4 linked regions of the Homo sapiens genome follow. The protein of the gene in region 2 purifies or fractionates together with the protein of the main gene of each other region. This does not show direct contact. Each region holds a gene or a part of one and is shown on either strand. Other genes may lie near its edges.

The links. The genes of interacting proteins can lie anywhere in the genome.
Region 1: the proteins of CLCN3 (region 2) and MCOLN1 fractionate together in Homo sapiens (co-fractionation; one large-scale study listed by BioGRID). This does not show direct contact.
Region 3: the proteins of CLCN3 (region 2) and PRKAR2A fractionate together in Homo sapiens (co-fractionation; one large-scale study listed by BioGRID). This does not show direct contact.
Region 4: the proteins of CLCN3 (region 2) and NBEAL1 fractionate together in Homo sapiens (co-fractionation; one large-scale study listed by BioGRID). This does not show direct contact.

Annotation. Positions count from the first base shown.
Region 1 is NC_000019.10:7,529,124-7,533,354, forward strand, and holds part of MCOLN1 (mucolipin-1), read left to right. Parts: coding exon 1-79; intron 80-466; coding exon 467-589; intron 590-1,162; coding exon 1,163-1,378; intron 1,379-4,231. UniProt on the Homo sapiens protein: Nonselective cation channel probably playing a role in the regulation of membrane trafficking events and of metal homeostasis. Acts as a Ca(2+)-permeable cation channel with inwardly rectifying activity.
Region 2 is NC_000004.12:169,692,543-169,697,742, forward strand, and holds part of CLCN3 (H(+)/Cl(-) exchange transporter 3), read left to right. Parts: intron 1-3,069; coding exon 3,070-3,150; intron 3,151-4,646; coding exon 4,647-5,192; intron 5,193-5,200.
Region 3 is NC_000003.12:48,770,644-48,774,874, reverse strand, and holds part of PRKAR2A (cAMP-dependent protein kinase type II-alpha regulatory subunit), read left to right. Parts: intron 1-1,766; coding exon 1,767-1,920; intron 1,921-4,231. UniProt on the Homo sapiens protein: Regulatory subunit of the cAMP-dependent protein kinases involved in cAMP signaling in cells. Type II regulatory chains mediate membrane association by binding to anchoring proteins, including the MAP2 kinase.
Region 4 is NC_000002.12:203,013,506-203,018,405, forward strand, and holds the start of NBEAL1 (neurobeachin-like protein 1), read left to right. Parts: upstream 1-1,369; 5' UTR 1,370-1,477; intron 1,478-2,212; exon of another isoform or gene 2,213-2,359; intron 2,360-2,650; 5' UTR 2,651-2,879; coding exon 2,880-2,930; intron 2,931-4,900.

The sequences.
Region 1 (4,231 bases), on a different chromosome or scaffold from region 2:
CAGCATCCTCCTGGGCACCTCGACGCTGCTGGTGTGGGTGGGCGTGATCCGCTACCTGACCTTCTTCCACAACTACAATGTGAGTTTTGCACATGCAGCTGGGCCTTCCACATGGTTACTCCACACCCTCCAAATAAATCCCTACACACGCAGCCCTCACCAGCCCCGGCCAATGGCCCCTTGCAAGCCTCCTCCTCCTACCTGCCCACACCAGATATATCTGTCACTGCACCTGCGCGGGGCCCCGGGAGCCTGCTCCTTTGTGCCCACCCAGCTGAGTCTAGCCGTGCGTTGCCCTCGGACCCCCTCAGACGTGGCCACGCCCCCTCTAGGCACCCACTGGCTCCCATGACCACACCGGCTGTGCCCTCGGCAAGGCCCCGCCCCTCCCACCCCCATCTGGGTGCCCACAGCTGACCTGAGTTGTGGCCACACCCTCAACGAGGCTCCCTCTGCCCCAACCCAGATCCTCATCGCCACACTGCGGGTGGCCCTGCCCAGCGTCATGCGCTTCTGCTGCTGCGTGGCTGTCATCTACCTGGGCTACTGCTTCTGTGGCTGGATCGTGCTGGGGCCCTATCATGTGAAGGTACATCTAACCCCTGATGTCCCTGACATTGACCCTGTGACCTTGTCATTGACACTGTGACCCCCAGATGACCCCTTGGTGACTGCTGGGAGTCTGTCCACTGTCCCCTGTGGTCCTTGGTGACCCTGACACTGACCCTGTGCCATTATTGTTGTCACAGTTGTTGATGACCCTATTTCGACCTGAATTACTCCCCTCCTGCTCTATCTACCCAGACCCTAGGTCGGCCCTGTGGCCCTGTCATTGACCCGTGGTCCCGGCCATTCACATGGGACCCCAGCCTGGGACCTGGCCATTCACATAGTGACCCCAGCCTGGGACCCGGCCATTCACGTGGGACCCCAGCCTGGGTCCCGGCCATTCACGTGGGACCCCAGCCTGGGACCCGGCCATTCACAGGGGCCCTAGCCTGGAACCCGACCATTCACATGGTGACCGCAGCCCGGGACCCGGCCATTCATGTGGGGCCCCAGCCACCAGCTCCTAGCCATTTGCATGGGACCCCAGCCTGACCCCAGCCCCCGGTTCCTGGCCATGCCTTGGCTCCCTCTGACCCCGCCGCCCCTCTGGCAGTTCCGCTCACTCTCCATGGTGTCTGAGTGCCTGTTCTCGCTCATCAATGGGGACGACATGTTTGTGACGTTCGCCGCCATGCAGGCGCAGCAGGGCCGCAGCAGCCTGGTGTGGCTCTTCTCCCAGCTCTACCTTTACTCCTTCATCAGCCTCTTCATCTACATGGTGCTCAGCCTCTTCATCGCGCTCATCACCGGCGCCTACGACACCATCAAGGTCAGCCGCATGCACCCAGCCCTGAGCTCGGGCTCTGGGTGCCCTGGAGTCTGCCATGAGGGGGTCTTGGGGACACCGCAGGGTGAACAGAGAAGACCCAGGAGAGAATATGGGAGACTCTATGAAACCAAAAAGAGGGTGGTTCAGAACTGGGGGGCGCAGGGGGATGTCAAGGTGGGCTTGGGCCAGGAGGGGGCCTGAGTCAGTCTTTGCCAACAGGGCAACCGAGTCATAGAGTTTATTTATTTATTTGTTTATTTGAGACGGAGTCTTGCTCTGTCACCCAGGGTGGAGTGCAGTGGTGCGATCTTGACTCACTGCAACCTCCACCTCCCGGGTTCAAGCAATTCTGTCTCAGCCTCCTGAGTAGCTGGGACTACAGGCACACGCCACCACGTCCAGCTAATTTTTGTATTTTTAGTAGAGATGGCATTTCACCGCATTGGTCAGGCTGGTCTCAAACTCCTGGCCTCAGGAGATCTACTGCCTTGGCCTCCCAAAGTGTTGGGATTACAGGCGTGAGCCACCACGCCCGGCCTATTTTATTTTATTATTAAAGTATTGTTCTTTATTTTATTAGAGACAAGGGTCTCACTGTGTTACCCAGGCTGGTTTCAAACTCCTGAGGTCAAGTGATCCTCCCACTTTGGCCTCCCAAAGTGCTGGGATTACAGGCGTAAGCCACCACACCCAGCCTATTATTATTATTTTTTTTTTGAAATGGAATCTTACCCTGTGGCCCAGGCTGGAGTGCAATGGCATGATCTCGGCTCACTGCAACCTCCACCTTCTGAGTTGAAGCGATCCTTGTGCCTCAGCCTCCTGAGTAGCTGGGATTACTTGCACGTGCCACCACACCTGGCTAATTTTTGTATTTTTACTAGAGATGGGGTTTCACCACGTTGGCCAGGCTGGTCTCGAACTCCTGACCTCAGGTGATCCACCTGCCTTGGCCTCCCAAGGTGCTGGGATTTCAGGCATGAGCCACTGAACCCAGCTAAGTCATACAGTTTCAATGACCTTGTCATTGACCCTGGGACGTTGCCATTAACATGGTGATCCTCAGCTGGCCCCATTCCTATGGCGGACCTCTAAAAACCCAACCCTGACCCCAGCCCCCAGCCATGCCCCCGACTCCCTCTGACCCTGCCCAAGGTTAGCTTCTTTATTTATTTATTTTTTTTGAGACGGAGTCTCGCTGTGTCACCCAGGCTGGAGTGCAGTGGTGCAATCTCGGCTCACTGCAACCTCTGCCTCCCGGGTTCAAGCGATTCTCCTGCCTCAGCCTACTGAGTAGCTGGGATTATAGGCACACGCCACCATGCCTGGCTAATTTTTGTATTTTTAGTAGAGATGGGGTTTCACCATGTTGACCAGGCTGGTCTCAAACTCCTGACCTTGTGATCCGCCCACCTCAGGCTCCCAAAGTGCTGGGATTACGGGCGTGAGCCACTGTGCCCGGCCCAGGTTAGCTTCTGAGCAGTAAAACTGGGCTCAACCCAGGGCTGTCTGATTCCAGAAGCCGTGCTCCTAACCCCTCTGTCCTCAGTTTAGTAGGGTGGCTGGGAACAGTGGTTTCCCTGCAAGCTGCAAGGGTCAGGGGACAGAGCAGGATGCGGAAGTGGCAGGTAGATAGGATTCTTTCAGCAGATATATCTAAGGGCCAAGATCTGTGCTGGGTTCTGGGCATGGAGGAAAATCAGGTGTGCATGATCCGTCCAAGGCCTGTGGGCAAGGATGGCACAGGAACAGACATCCCATGACCAATGACCTACTTGTAACAGGTATGAAGGAAGAGTGGAAGGTTGCAGAGGGACCCCTGCTTTAGATTGGTATGACAGGAGATCCAGGAGAGCTTCTAGAATGTTCTATCCATCACTAGTCTCTAGCCCTATGCAGCTATTTAAATTTTGATTTTAATTCCGGCTGGGCACGGTGACTCACGCCTGTAATCCCAGCCCTTTGGGAGGCCGAGGGGGGGTGGGGGTGGATCACCTGAGGTTAGGAGTTCGAGACCAGCCTGGCCAACATGGCAAAACCCCATCTCTACTAAAAATACAAAAAATTAGCGGACGTGGTGGCAGGCACCTGTAATCCCAGCTACTCCGGAGGCTGAGGCAGTAGAATTGCTTGAACCTGGGACGTAGAGGTTGCAGTGAGCCGAGATCAAGCCACTGCACTCCAACGTGGGCGAGAGACCGAGACTCTGCTTCAAAGACAAAACAACAATTTTTTAAAAATTTTAATTCAAATGAAGTACAATTGCAAATTTAGCCTCTGACTTGCACCATCCTGTATCCAGTGCTCAAAAGCCAGTGTGGCTGGTGGCTGCCATATTGGACAGCATAGATATTGAATACTTCCATCGCCTCTAGACTGAAGAGATGGGAGCCCAGGGGCAGTGCACCGAGGGGAAGGAATAGCTAAAGCAAAGGTCTAGTAGCCTGAAAAAACTTGGAGAAAAGATGGCCCCTCCATGAGGCCGAGTGAGAGGAAGGAAGCCTTGGCTGGGACCCTGCCACATCCAATGTCACCGGCAGATGGGTACACCCCCTTTTCCCCATGCATGGATTCAGCTGTCCCACAGACACATTGACTCAGGCCCTTGGAACTACTTCCTGTCTTGCCTTAGCACGTAGACATCACACACATGCATCCACTCAGGTGGGCAGTCTCAGGCCCTGCTCCCACTGCTGTGCTCAGCGTGCATCCAGCTCACTCAATAGATGGTTTCTGAGCATCGAGGTCATGTCAGCCCTGGCTCTAGGTCTGTAGGTGCTGGACCTACAGCAGAAGGCAAAGACACAGACTGGCAAAGACACAGCTTGTATCCAGGTTCAGGGGTCAGGGAAG
Region 2 (5,200 bases):
TGGTGTCCATTGGGTTTCAGCTGCATTTCACGAAGATCTTCCTGTTATCACTTTACCTTACATCTTTCCTCTTCTGAAGTGTTTTCTAAGCTTAGCTTTGTTTTTCACTCTTACTTTCAACATTAAGAGGTTGGGAAATCTTAATAGCTATGTTTTCCTCCTGGAGGCAGTGTCTGGTGCCAGTGTAAGTGGTGTGTGATATGAAAAATGCTATCCAGTGCTATGGGGAAGTTCTGAGGGCCTTTAGAAGCTCTTGAAGTTTAAATCAGAAATTCACATTAAAGAGATTACAGGAAATCCTTTTCATTTGATTGTTTAAGGCAATTTCCTTTACCATTTCTTTAGGCCAGCCTGAGATCTTCTACAAGACCTTGAAACCTTATATATATTATGGATTTCCTCTGATGTTTCCATATTGCTCTGGGCATTTTCCTGAATCCTTTATATTAGCTCTAGACTTTGGGAGCCCAGTCCCTTCCTATTTTCCAAATCTAAATCTACAGCCCTAGATGGTACAGAGATCTTTGAGTTTTTAAGATATGATTTTTTGAAAAACATCTCATTAAATACTGGCAGAACCTTTTCATCTTGTTGAGTTTTTTAATGTACTGTAACCAAAAAAGTAGAATATTTTATCAAACTGTTTAATCTTCAATTGAAATAATTCTAGTACATTTTAATGTTCGCATTAAAATATTGTCCTTGCATTGGACGTAGATATCCCAAAAGTGGAATACTTCAGATTGTCGTAGTTTCATCTCTGAATAATTGTGATTCCAGTACTTTATAACAAAAATAGCTAGCATTATTGATTACTTTCTGTGTATCTGGTACTGTGGCAGATACTTTACTTGGATTTTAATACTTAATTTCACAGTAATTTAGTAATATGGCCCTGTTATCCTCATTTAGTGATTAGTAAACTAGGGCTGAAAACAGCTAACTAACTTGCCCGAGACTACATACCTAGTAAGTGGTGGAACGTAGGTTAAAATTCATTTTTCTTTGACTTCAAAGTCTGTGGTCTTACCTACTTACATTACTGCCCTTACGACTATGTGGGTATATATTTGTGTGTGTTCAAAACAAACTCAAAACCATCCTGTAGCGTAGCAAGTTAGTGGCTAAGATGAAGCTAGAGCATTTGCCTCCTCAATTCAATTCCATTACTTTCTGTTGTACCTTTATATTTTTTGGTAAGACTTTTACTTATTCTAAGTTCAAAAAATGTAATTTATTAGATGTTTGAGAAATTAAGTTTACCTAAATTTTAATGTTCATACTGTAGTGATTAGTTAATGTTTAATACGTTGTTATTCTGTCACCTTAGTGTATATATAAATGGCAAGAATTCACGGTTAGTTGAAAGCATTAAGGTCCCATAGTTTTGTGTAGACAAGAGGGGAGAGCGTTGATATTTTTAAATTAAATGCTTCTTAGATACGTATGAAATGGATTAAAACATGTATATGAGTTATAGATACCTAGGTGTTAGTTTGGTTGTAAATTCAGGATCAGGACATTCAAATAAATATGTTTGCTTTCCTCTTAGTGGAGGAAAAAAAAAAGAAGCTAAATTTGCTCCCTTTCCTCCCCAAATAAGCAGAGTCTACATTTTAATGCCAACAATTTGATTAAAACAAATATTTATTTACTTTTAATTCACCAAACTTTTATAAAGTATTTACTGGTGCCAGGCACTGTTCTAAAGCACTCTGTATATATTTACTCAGTCCTTAAGAGCTAAGTAATATTATCACGTTTCCATTTTAGAGAAAACTGAGGCACATATAGGTTAGGTTATCTACCCATAGCCATACAGCTAGTAAGTAGCAGAGCCATGATTTCAACACAGCAGCCTGACTATGGAGTTCATGATCTTAACCATTTACAGCTTAATTTTTATTATTTATAATTTCTCTTCTGGAAATGTAACAATTGACCATTTGAAGAAATACTTTAGGTAGCTTTGGATATTTGCTGTATTAAAGTAGTGAAAGTAATACAGACACTTGGCTGGGCGCGGTGGCTCACGCCTATAATCCCAGCATTTTGGTAGGTTGAGGCAGGCAGATCACCTAAGGTCAGGAATTCGAGACCAGTGTTGCCAACATGGTGAAACCCCGTCTCTACTAAAAATACAAAAATTAGCCGGGCGTGGTGGCAGGCGCCTGTAATCCCAGCTACTCGGGAGGCTGAGGCAGGAGAATCACTTGAACCCAGGAGGTGGAGGTTGCAGTGAGCTGAGACGACGCCATTGCACTCCAGCCTGAGAAACAAGAGAGAAACTCTGTCTCAAAAAAAATAAAGGAATACAGACTCTTAGAAAAATAATTACAAATAAAACCCTAGTGAAATTATAGGTATAGTTAGGTATAGTTGGCTTACAGGTGGGAAGTAGACCATTACCAACTGATAGACTGGGGAGCTGGAGAGAGGACACGGAAGAGTGTCCTTGGATTTTTCTTTTCCTTTAATTTTTTTGTAGAGGTGTTGGTTGGTGAGACTGTAACTTGAGGAGCTGTTGTGTGTGCTTTCAGAATGAGGCTCTCTAGATTGATAGTATTTTAGCAGTATTTCAGAATGCATAGGGTAGTGAAAATATAGGGAATCTTACAAGGTCTTCGGTTCCCTGCATATCTTGCTACGATTTGGAATAGAGTATTTATGGTGGAGCAGTTAGCTCTAAAATTTGAAGAAATGATATCCTATTTAAAAATAGCTCCCCATCCCAGTTACTGCCCTCCCCTCTTACCTACACAAACATACGTCTTGAAAATTGTCTATATTCATTGCCTCCTCCTCTTTACACCCTATTCACATTAGTATATCTGGCAAAAATTTTTTTTAACTGAATGGTAAATGCATGACTGACCTTTCAATTAAAGCCAGGAGAAAGAAACAAATCTTAATAGAAGAAATGAATAGTTACCCTTTGCTTAGGGAGCAAGGAAACATGCAAGTTAAATTCAGAAAATCCATTTGGAAAATTCAAGTAACATGAAGAATTTTTATTTGGTATGTTTGAATTTCTATGAAATTATGAAATAAGCCATATCCTCTTTCTAGGTGCTATCAGCTGCCTCAGCTGCAGGGGTTTCTGTAGCTTTTGGTGCACCAATTGGAGGAGTTCTTTTTAGCCTGGAAGAGGTAGGTGAAAAGAATACAACAATTAAAATTATATATAATTACCATTACAAATATATTTCACACATTTCAGTTTTGTAGGTGATGTAATAGGTAGAGACTTTGTTTTCAAATTTATTTTTCTAAAGTTGTTTTCCACTCATTCTTAATAAAAAGTAAATGTTATTCATGCTCCATACCTGGAGGAAACTTTTTAAAAATTTATTAATGTATGAATGTTAGTAATTATTTAAAATCTAACTTTGTTGACATATTTAAAAGTAAGAAGATGTGAATTTGACTTAATAGAGGACATGTGAAACAATCTATTTCCATTGGCTAAATTCTGTATTTTTAGTAGAGATGGAATTTCACCATGTTGGCCAGGCTGTTTTTTTGTGGGGTTTTTTTGTTTTGTTTTGTTTTGTTTTTGTTTTTGAGACGGAGTTTCACTCTTGTTGCCCAGGCTGGAGTGCAATGGCGCGATCTTGGCTCACTGCAACCTCCGCCTCCAGGGTTCAAGTGATTCTCCTGCCTCAGCCTCCCAAGTAGTTTTTGTTTAAAAAATTTTAATCAATTCCTATGTTGTGTTTTAAAGTTTTTCCCATGTGATTATTTCTGATACAGTTAGTGATGTTAAAGAAAATAATTTTAGTGACTTCAGTGGATTATTTTGTTTTTGTTTTCTTAATAGGTGTTTAAGACTTTTCTTTTTACATAAAAATGTAACCAGGAATTTTTTTTTAATTTTTTTTGACAAATAATAATTGTTTTTGTTTATGGGGTATAATGTGATGTGTCTATACATGTATACATTGCGGAATAATCAAATCAGAGTGATTAGCAAATCCCTCAAATATTTATTATGTCCTTGTGGTGGTGAGAACATTTAAAATCCTCTTTTAGCTATTTTGAAATATATAATACATATTATTAACTGTGGTCATCTTACTGTGCAATAGAACACCAGAACTTATTCCTCCTCTGTAAGTTCATACCCGTTGACTAATGTCTCCCCTTTCCCTGTTCACCTCCCCAACCCCTAGCCTCTGGTAACCCCTATTCTACTCTCTACTTCTATGAATTTAACTCTTTTAGTTCAAGATGTTTTTAAATGTACTTTTTTCTTTTAGTTGTTTGTATTCTTTTTTTTTTTTTAATGTAGAAGAGGCAAATTAAATGCATTATAAGTTAACAGGAGTTGGTGATGGTACATTTATTTTTAACTACCATGATTGAATTGAATGTGAAACTCATTTTGAATATAAAACAGCACTAGGTATTCTATTAGTATTTATTAGACATTTATGATCAATTGATACTGTCAATTTGTAATGATGATCACCATCTCCAAAAATAATAATAACATCAATTTTTCTTATTACAGTAAAATCCATTACATGTAAATTCTAACTACAGCAAAATTTAGAGCTAGGATATTTACCATTCAAGTTATAATATATCAGAAACATCTTATAAAATTATAGCATTAATTTTTCTTTTCCTTTTCTTTTTTTTAGGTTAGCTATTATTTTCCTCTCAAAACTTTATGGAGATCATTTTTTGCTGCTTTAGTGGCTGCATTTGTTTTGAGGTCCATCAATCCATTTGGTAACAGCCGTCTGGTCCTTTTTTATGTGGAGTATCATACACCATGGTACCTTTTTGAACTGTTTCCTTTTATTCTTCTAGGGGTATTTGGAGGGCTTTGGGGAGCCTTTTTCATTAGGGCAAATATTGCCTGGTGTCGTCGACGCAAGTCCACGAAATTTGGAAAGTATCCCGTTCTGGAAGTCATTATTGTTGCAGCCATTACTGCTGTGATAGCCTTCCCTAATCCATACACTAGGCTAAACACCAGTGAACTGATCAAAGAGCTTTTTACAGACTGTGGTCCCCTGGAATCCTCTTCTCTTTGTGACTACAGAAATGACATGAATGCCAGTAAAATTGTCGATGACATTCCTGATCGTCCAGCAGGCATTGGAGTATATTCAGCTATATGGCAGTTATGCCTGGCACTCATATTTAAAATCATAATGACAGTATTCACTTTTGGCATCAAGGTAAGTGC
Region 3 (4,231 bases), on a different chromosome or scaffold from region 2:
TAGTCAATGCAATAAGGCAAAGAAAGGAAGAGAGGGAGGGAGGGAGGCAAGGAAAAAAGGAAGAAAGAAAGAAAGTGTGGCATAGTACACAATGAAATACCATTTGACCATAAAAAAGAAAGAAGTCATGTCATTTGTAGCCACATGGAGGTTGCTATATTAAGGTAAATAAGATAGGCACAGGAAGACAAATACCACATGTTCTTGCTCACATGTGAATGCTAAAGAACATTGATATCGTAGACATAGAGAATAGAATGATATATACCAGAAACTGAGAAGGGTGGTGGGTGGATGAAGAAAAGTTGGCTAATGGGTACAAACACACAGTTAGATAGAAGAAATAAATTTTAATGTCTTTTTTTTTTCCTTTTTGTGGAGAGAAGTCTCCATACGTTGCCCAGGATTGTCTCAAACTCCTGGGCTCAAGCAACCCTCCCAGTTTAGCTTCCTAAAGTGCTGAGATTACAGGTGTGAGCCACTGCACCTGGCAAGTTCTAATGTTTTATAGCATGATAAGGTGACTATACTTGGGTGACAATATTTAGCATATTTCAAAGTAACTATTAATAGAAGAGAGGACATGAAATGATACTGACACATAGAAAGGACATATATCCAAGGTGATGGATACCCCAGTTACCCTGACTTAATCATTACCCATTCTATGCATGCAACAAACACTCACATGTACGCCATAAATTATGTAAAATATTATATATTAATAAAAGAAAAAAAATTAGGCCGGGCATGGTGGCTCATGCCTTTAATCCCAGTACTTTGGGAGGCTGAGACAGGAGGATTGCTTGAGCCCAGGAGTTCCAGACCAGCTTGGGCAACATAGTGAGACCCCATCTCTACAAAAATAAAATATTAGCCAGGTGTGGTGGCACACGTCTGTGGTCACAGCTACTCGGGGCTGAGGTGAGAGGATTGCTAGGGGGCTGAGGTGAGAGGATTGCTTGGGGCCAGGAGGTGGAGGCTGCAATGAGCCATGATTGTGCCTCTGCACTCCAGCCTGGGTGACAGAGCAAGACCCTGTCTCAAAAAAATATATATGTCAAAAAATGTATATATGTGTATATATATATTTATGTGTATGTATATATGTGTGTGTGTGTATATATATATATGTTTAAGTTAAAGATGGGGGGAAAAAAAGGAAGGGGCATATAGATTGGAAAGGAAGTATTAAAACTTTGTTTCAGGTGACATGATCCTCTATGTAGAAAATTCTAGCCGGGTGTGGTGGCTCACACCTGTAATCCCAGCACTTTAGGAGGCTGAGGCGGGCGGATCACGAAGCCAGGAGATCGAGACCATCCTGCTAACATGGTGAAACCCTGTCTAAAAATACAAAAAAATTATCTGGGCCTGGTGGCGCGTGCCTGTAGTCCCAGCTACTCGGGAGGCTGAGGCAGGAGAATGGCGTGAGCCCAGGAGGTGGAGCTTGCAGTGAGCTGAGATACCGCCCCTGCACTCCAGCCTGGGTGACAGAGCGAGACTCCGTCTCAAAAAAAAAAAAAAAAAAAAAAGAAAAGAAAATTCCAAGAATGCCACAAAAAGGCTACTAGAATTAATAAGTGAGTTTAGCAAGGTTATAGGACACAGTACAAAGTCAAAATACAAAAATATGTTTTTTTTATATACTAGCAAAGTTCCATTGGAAATCTCTTAAAACAACATTTTCTATTATATGTACCTGCCAGTTCTTAACATTTATTATCAGAAGTAACTAATTAAATTATTCTTTGTCATTCTTCTAGGGGAACTTATGACATTTTAGTAACAAAAGATAATCAAACCCGCTCTGTTGGTCAATATGACAACCGTGGCAGTTTTGGAGAACTAGCTCTGATGTACAACACCCCGAGAGCTGCTACCATTGTTGCTACCTCAGAAGGCTCCCTTTGGGGACTGGTGAGTGAGAGAAATCGTTCCCCTTGCAAGGCACAGTATTAATTCCCTTTCTGTGTCTCTGTCCTTGGGCTGTTGATTTACACTATATCTTACAGCCATCCTGGCTAACACGGTGAAACCCCATCTCTACTAAAAAATACAAAAAAAATAGCCAGGTGTGGTGGTGGGCATGTGTAGTCCCAGCTAGTTGGGAGGCTGAGACAGGAGAATGGCGTGAACTCGGGAGGTGGAGCTTGCAGTGAGCCGAGATCGCGCCACTGTACTCCAGCCTGGGCGACACAGCGAGACTCCGTCTCAAAAAAAAAAGCACTTTATTGTGACATCCTGATGTTAAATTAAGAGTGCTCCTGAAAGAGATACAGTGACTTAAGGATAGGTCACACACTTGGGGACTCAATGATTGAAAAACTCAAGAATAGATTTGTATAGGGGAATAATAAATAATGGGGGCCAGGCACGGTGACTCACACCTGTAATCCCAGCACTTGGGGAGGCCAAGGCGGGAAGATCACTTGAGGTCAGGAGTTCGAGACCAGCCTGAGCAACATGGTAAAACCGTGTCTCTACTAAAAATATGAAAATTGGCCAGTCATGGTGATGGGCGCCTGTAGTCCCAGGAGGCGGAGGTTGCAGTGAGCCAAGATCACGCCACTGCACTCTAGCCTGGGCGACTGAGCAAGACTCCATCTCAAAAAATACAAAATCAAATAATAAGCCTTGGTGCTAACTACTGGTTCAGACCAAGATGGAATAGCCCTATTCCATGCTAGTGTTCTCACTTAAAAACTTAAACACACACACAAACAACTATGGACATAATAGAGCAAACATAGGAAGACTCTGAAAGGTGGAAAGAAGAAGGCAGACTATCTAGGGATATTGGGGCTTGAGGAAAGACATGACAGTGAGTTCCCAGGTTCCCATATATCCCAGATGGGGTGCTGGAAAGCCTGAAATCCAGATCTTCTAACAGGTATATTCAACAAAAGCAAAACTCCATCTCAAAAACAAAACAAAACAAAAGAACGAACAGCTAAACAGAAAATCAGCTAGTGTCAGCTAGGATATAGAAGAACTTAACACCATTAATTAACAAAAGCTATCTGAAATTTATAGAACACTGCACACAGCAACAACAGAATGAACATTTTTTTCAAGCCCATGGAACATTCACCCAAATAGGCCATATCCTGGAATATAAAATAAAACTTAAAAAATGTAAAAGATTTGAAATCAGGCCAACCACAGTGGCTCAAGCCTGTTATCCCAGCACTTTGGGAGGTTGAGGTGGGAGGATTGAGTCCAGGAATTTGAGACCTACCTGGGCAGCATAGTGAGACCACATCTCTATTTAAAATTTTAAGAAATAATGAAAATTTAAAGAAAAAATGAAATCAGAATGTGTTCTCTAACTACAATTGAAAGAAAGAAACTAAAAATCAATAACAGATCTCCAGACACTTAGAAATTAAATAACATTGTTTTTGGTGTGAGCAGGGGCTAACTGCAGCCTTGACCTCCTGAGCTCAAGCAATCCTCCCACCTCAGCCTCCCAAGTAGCTGGGACTACAGGTGTGCACCACCACACCTGTCTTTTTGTTGTTGTTGTTGTTGAGACAGAGTCTCACTATGTTGCTCAGGCTGGTCTTGAACTTCTGGGCTCAAGCAGTCCTCCTGCCTTGGCCTCCCAAAGTGCTGGAATTACAGGCATGAGCCACTGTGCCCAGCCAAATAACACATTCTTTCTTTTTTTTCTTTTTTGAGATGATCTTGGCTCACTGCAACCTCTGCCTCCTGGGTTCAAGCGATTCTCCTACCTCGGCCTCCTGAGTAGCTGGGATTACAGACGTGTGCACATGTGCCACCACGCCCAGCCAATTTTTGTATTTTTAGTAGAAATGGAGTTTCACCATGTTGGCCAGGCTGGTCTCGAACTCCTGACCTCAGGTGATCTGCCCACCTCGGCCTCCCAAAGTGCTGGGATTACAGGCAAGAGCCACCGCACCCGGCCAAATAACCCATTCTTGGATAATCTCTAAGACCAAGTCTCAATGAAAATTGAAAACTGTATATTGAGCTGTAAAACCACCTGCTTTGTGGCTGGGGTATGAGGATTAAATACATGGGCATAAGAGAAGTGACTCCCTTAGTGCCTGGTACAAGGTGGGTGTTCACAGAATGATGGCACAAGCTCCCCATGGCCATGGTGCTACTCACCACCCTTCTTTTCCTGAGACTTCCTTTCCTAAGACTCCTATTCTTTCTATTTCCTTGCCTTTGGCAGTCATTTCCTCTTCTCCTTGCTTTCTTA
Region 4 (4,900 bases), on a different chromosome or scaffold from region 2:
ATGTAATTTCAGGATAAAAAATTGAAGGTGTAATTTGCAAGCAACTACTCTCAATTCTGCCATGGTAGAGTGAAAGCAGCTATAGGCAATACTAAAGGAATGGGCATGGTTGTGTTCCACTAAAATTTTAGGACACTGAAACTTGAATTTGAATTTCGTCTAATTTTCACATCTCAAAATATTGTTCTTTTGATTTTCGTTAAGCAAGTTGCAACCAGAATGGACTGCAAAGCCTATAACATTTATTGTCTGGCTCTTTTTATTTTATTTTTATTTTTTGAGACAGTGTCTCGCTCTGTCGCCCAGGCTGGAGTACAGTGGCGCCATCGGAGCTCACTGCAACCTTCACTCCCAGGTTCAAGCGATTCTCCCACCTTAGCTTCTAAGTAGCTGGAACTACAGGCGTGCACCACCACGCCAAGCTAATTAAAATTTCTTTTGCAGAGACAGGGTCTCATTCTGTTGCCCAGGCTGATCTCCTGGGTTCAAGGGATTCGCCCGCCTAGACCTCCCAAAATTCTGGAATTACAGGCGATAGCCACTGCGCCTCGTCTCTGGCTCTTCACAGGCAATTTGTGGATCCTTGTTACAAATGAAACAAGATGGGACATTAGTTGATCATTTTTGAAGTTGGGTGACGGTATACAGGGTTTCGTTATACTAGTTTACTTTAGAATATACTTGAAATCTTTCACAATAAAAAGTTGTGGAAATGTTTAACAAAGGTGAGTTATCTTACGCGTTTTTCTTTCCTTATACAAAAACCAAATCTCTCTGAAAGTTGTCTATAGTTAGTAAAGCCTTTTGCTTCTTTTCTGAAAAAGAAAAACCCTTTCGAAGTCTTTAGTGGTGGTAAAATAAGCCCTTTGGATATGACACTCGGTGACGACGAAAGCAGGCACAAAAGGAAAAGAGGAGTTTTTGGGGGGTGTCTGTGTGTGTTTTGTCTTTTTACATTACTCTAAATTCCCAGAACCAATCCCGGTTCTACAAATAAGTGAAACAAAATCCCCTTTAACACCGTAGGGTCTCACGCCCTCAGATGACTCACGGAAATGACGCCATCAGCGAAAAGCGGGGCGGGCGTAGACGTCAGCACGTCAGCCCTCCTCCATGTCCAGCTGAGGGAAGGCTCGTTTCAGTGCCGCGGCCGGCGCCCGCCAAGGGATGGGCAGCCAGAGCCTGTCGACTGCGGCTGCGCAGGTATGCTGGGGCGGGGCTTCAGGTCACCCCGCCCATCCCCAGCCTACGCGACCATTGAACAGCTGCCGCCCAACGGCTGGGTAAATCCTCAGCGGCCGAAATGATTAGCCCAGGGGGCAGCCCCGCCCCCTGCTCCTCCCGGCCTCTCGCCCCGCCCCCATGTCCCGCCCGCTCGTCTGCCTGGCTGCGGGGTGACACGGGGCTTCGCCTTGGGAAGGGGTCGAGGGAAGCAGTTAGACGGCTGCCGGGCGGCGGCTGCCGCGCGGCACACAATGTGAGCCCGGTGATGGGGAGCGGGCCGTTGGGAAGAGGGGGCGGCATGGCAAGAAATGGGAGGGCCCCGGTGCTTGGTGGTGGAGGGGCTGCAGAGTGAGGGGCGGCTTTGAGTGGGCTAGGCTGTCAGGGAGTGTTCCGATACTGTAGTGCAGGCTGGGATCGCGGTCGGGAGACGCCGAGTCCGCATTCCTCAGTTCTAGAGCTTCTCTTGGCAGCTCGGCACACCTTAAGTTTGCCTCTGTTTGGGTTGTCTTGGGATGTGAGGAGGAAATTAAAAGATTCCCCCAAACACTTGGATGCTTCTTTGGGAAGTTCCTCGCCGGTGTGTGCGTGCCCACTTCTCTTGGATGGAAAGGTGGAGAGGCCAGGTGGGCGGGTGGACTTCCACTCTCCGAGGATTGTTAGAACAAACGAACTGGGAATTCCTCCCCCGCCCCCACGCCCTGCCCTGCAACACAGCAAACAGTCCCAACTACTCCACCCCCACCCCACCCCAGACGGAGTCTTGCTCTGTCGCCCAGACTGGAGTGCAGTGGCGTGATCTGGGCTCACTGCAGCCTCTGCCTCCCGGGTTCAAGCAATTCTCCTGCCTCAGCCTCCTGAGTAGCTGGGATTACAGGTGCCCGCCACCACGCCCGGCTAATTTTTTGTATTTCTTTAGTAGAGACAGGGGTTCACTGTGTTGGCCAGGCTGGTCTCGAACTCCTGACCTCAGGTGATTCACGCACTTGGGCCTCCCAAAGTGCTGGGATTACAGGCGTGAGCCACCGCGCCTGGCCCCAACAACTTTGAAGAGGAGACCAGAACAAGAACATTCTAAGAGCTTTGATGTATTTGAAATGTCTGAGATGTGGGCCTTTTCCTTGTATCTGTACAAAAGGTATGAGTGGGAAGGGAGTCTTGCTCCTTATTCTCACTGGACGCATTCTTGGTTATGAACATGTACCCATCTCTAGGAGTCTGTCTGCCCTAGAGGATTCTATGGTGGACATACTGTGTTAGCTGTGATGTTTTCCTGAAACACAAGTTTCTATGAAATCTAATCAGTCCATGTGAAAGTATAGCGGGTTGTTTGTGGGAAGTGAAGAAGATACATCTTTAGTTTTTGATAAGTCTAGATTTTTTAGTATGGCCTCTTTTTCTAACCTGTGGATGTTTTTCTCTTTCACAGATTTATTTAATTGCCCAACTACCACTGATGAAGATATATTGGAGTGACTGCTGAAATTGCCTTTTTGTTTTTAACCAGAGGACAGTCCATTTGTTTCACTTCTTTTTGCTTTCTTTACTGCTATGAGCTTTACTGAACGGCTGAAAAACTTGGAAAATAAAATGGACATGCTGTAGTCTTGAACATAATTTTTTTAAGGAAAACTTAAAGTGCCAGAGTGAAAGCCAGAATGGCATCCAGAGAGAGGCTCTTTGAACTTTGGATGCTTTATTGTACAAAGGTAATTGCTTTCCTTTTTATTTTTATGTTTTAAAATACTTTATTATAAAATTTGTGACTGGCAGTAGTAACACTTTATTTAATAGATAATAGTGTATTTAGTCATAATGAATAACCCCAAACTTAAAAGCGTTTAAAGGATTTTCTGTTTTCCTCTTTTTCAGGTTTGAACACACATACAATATTGGCATACTGTTAAAAACTGTAGGGTGCGGCTTTTATTTGATACTTATCCCCAAATGATCCTAAAATTATATAAGTAAAATTATGCCCTTAAGAGAAAAATAAAATATTTTTATTTTTGTTTGTGCTTTTCATTTTCTCCCACAAGTGAGTGTAGGATAGAGACATTTTTATGAGAAGGGCATTAAGCATTTTTCTTGGAATGAACCTTTGAAATTGCATCACAAGGTTATTGATTGAACTGCGTGCTGTGTGACTGCCACTAAGTTAGCACTCTTTGAGCATTGTCTCATTTCCTTCTCACTACAATACTGTGAGGTGAATATTGTGATCATCCCCTTTTACTGATGGGAAAACTGATGCAAGGGTTACAGGAGTACTGAGTAGCCGAGAAACACAGTACTACCTGACTCAAGTGCGTACTTTTATCCATTTTTACTCCTTAATATTTTTGTCACTCAGAAATAATGTTCTTTCCCCTCCTTGTCTTTATGTGAATTTTTACTTGATAGCTTTGATTTTAGGTTATTGAGAAGAGTACTCCTTAAAAACATGTTTTTCAAGTGAGGAGGTACATTATTACTTTGAAGATACTGGCAAGGGTCAGAGAAACACCCCTAATGTACTATTTGAGTTAATTTAAGTATGTGTGGTGAAATTCTCAAGTCACAGCTTCTGTTTCTGCATTATCCTTTCATGCTCCTTAAAAGGCAGATTATTATTTAACAGTGGTCTCATTTATCTGTCATATTAAATTTAGAGATTACACTGGAATTTTCTTTGACTTCCTGGTTTGATATATATTATAATTGCTAAAGGACATACACTTTGAAATGCTTAATATGAATTTTTAAAATAGCTTTTAGTCTTGCATAATTTAATACCAGAAATGTCTTTTTAAAAATAGACGCTTCCAATAAAAAAGGAATCCAATTCACCACTTTTGAAAATAGTCACTAACACGTTAACCAAAAATTAAAATTAATTTTTAGTATGAATACCTAGTAGTTTGAAAATGATTTATTTAAAAATACATCAAACTTACTAGGTTTTACTGTTTTCAAAATGATATTGGTGAATGGGGTTACGTGTCTCATTAATAAGTTACATTCTTTTTAGGTATATTTACTATTAAATTTAATATTAAAGCTTATTAAACAGATAGTATAGTTCATTGGCATACACTGAATTTTATTCTTAATGGCTTTTAATATAAACATGCATCCCTTCTCCTTTGAAATGTTAATCCTCAATAATGAAGGCCCCTCACTGTCAGATTTTGAAGCCTATCTCTTCTTGGACAGGAATATAAATCTCATTTTTAGGTTTAATATTTAAATAATTTGTGTGCTTAATACGATTTAAAATTTTTTCACTTGTTTTCAAAGAATATTTATTTAAAACCGTGATTTTATATTTTACCAGTTAACGGATAAGCTTTTTGTAAGGTAGACAACATTCTCTTCTGCAGACACCTTGAATCAGGTAGCTACCAAATATACCTCATAGATTTAAGTCTTCTTTCTAATGAGGATGACTACCAAATACTGTACCCAGTTGTTCTCTATACTTTTTGCCTTATTATTCTCACTCTAGCATTTAGCCTCTCAAACCAGCTGACTTTTTTTTTTTCCCAGCTGACAAACTTTTAAGGCTTTTTTTTTTCACACTTTTAATGAGCTTTCAGACCACTTGAGGACTCAGATCTTCTTATGAAAATATTTTCTACCACTTAGTTTCAAAAGCTTCTTAGACCTCTTTGTGAGCTTGAAATCGTAGTTTAGTTTT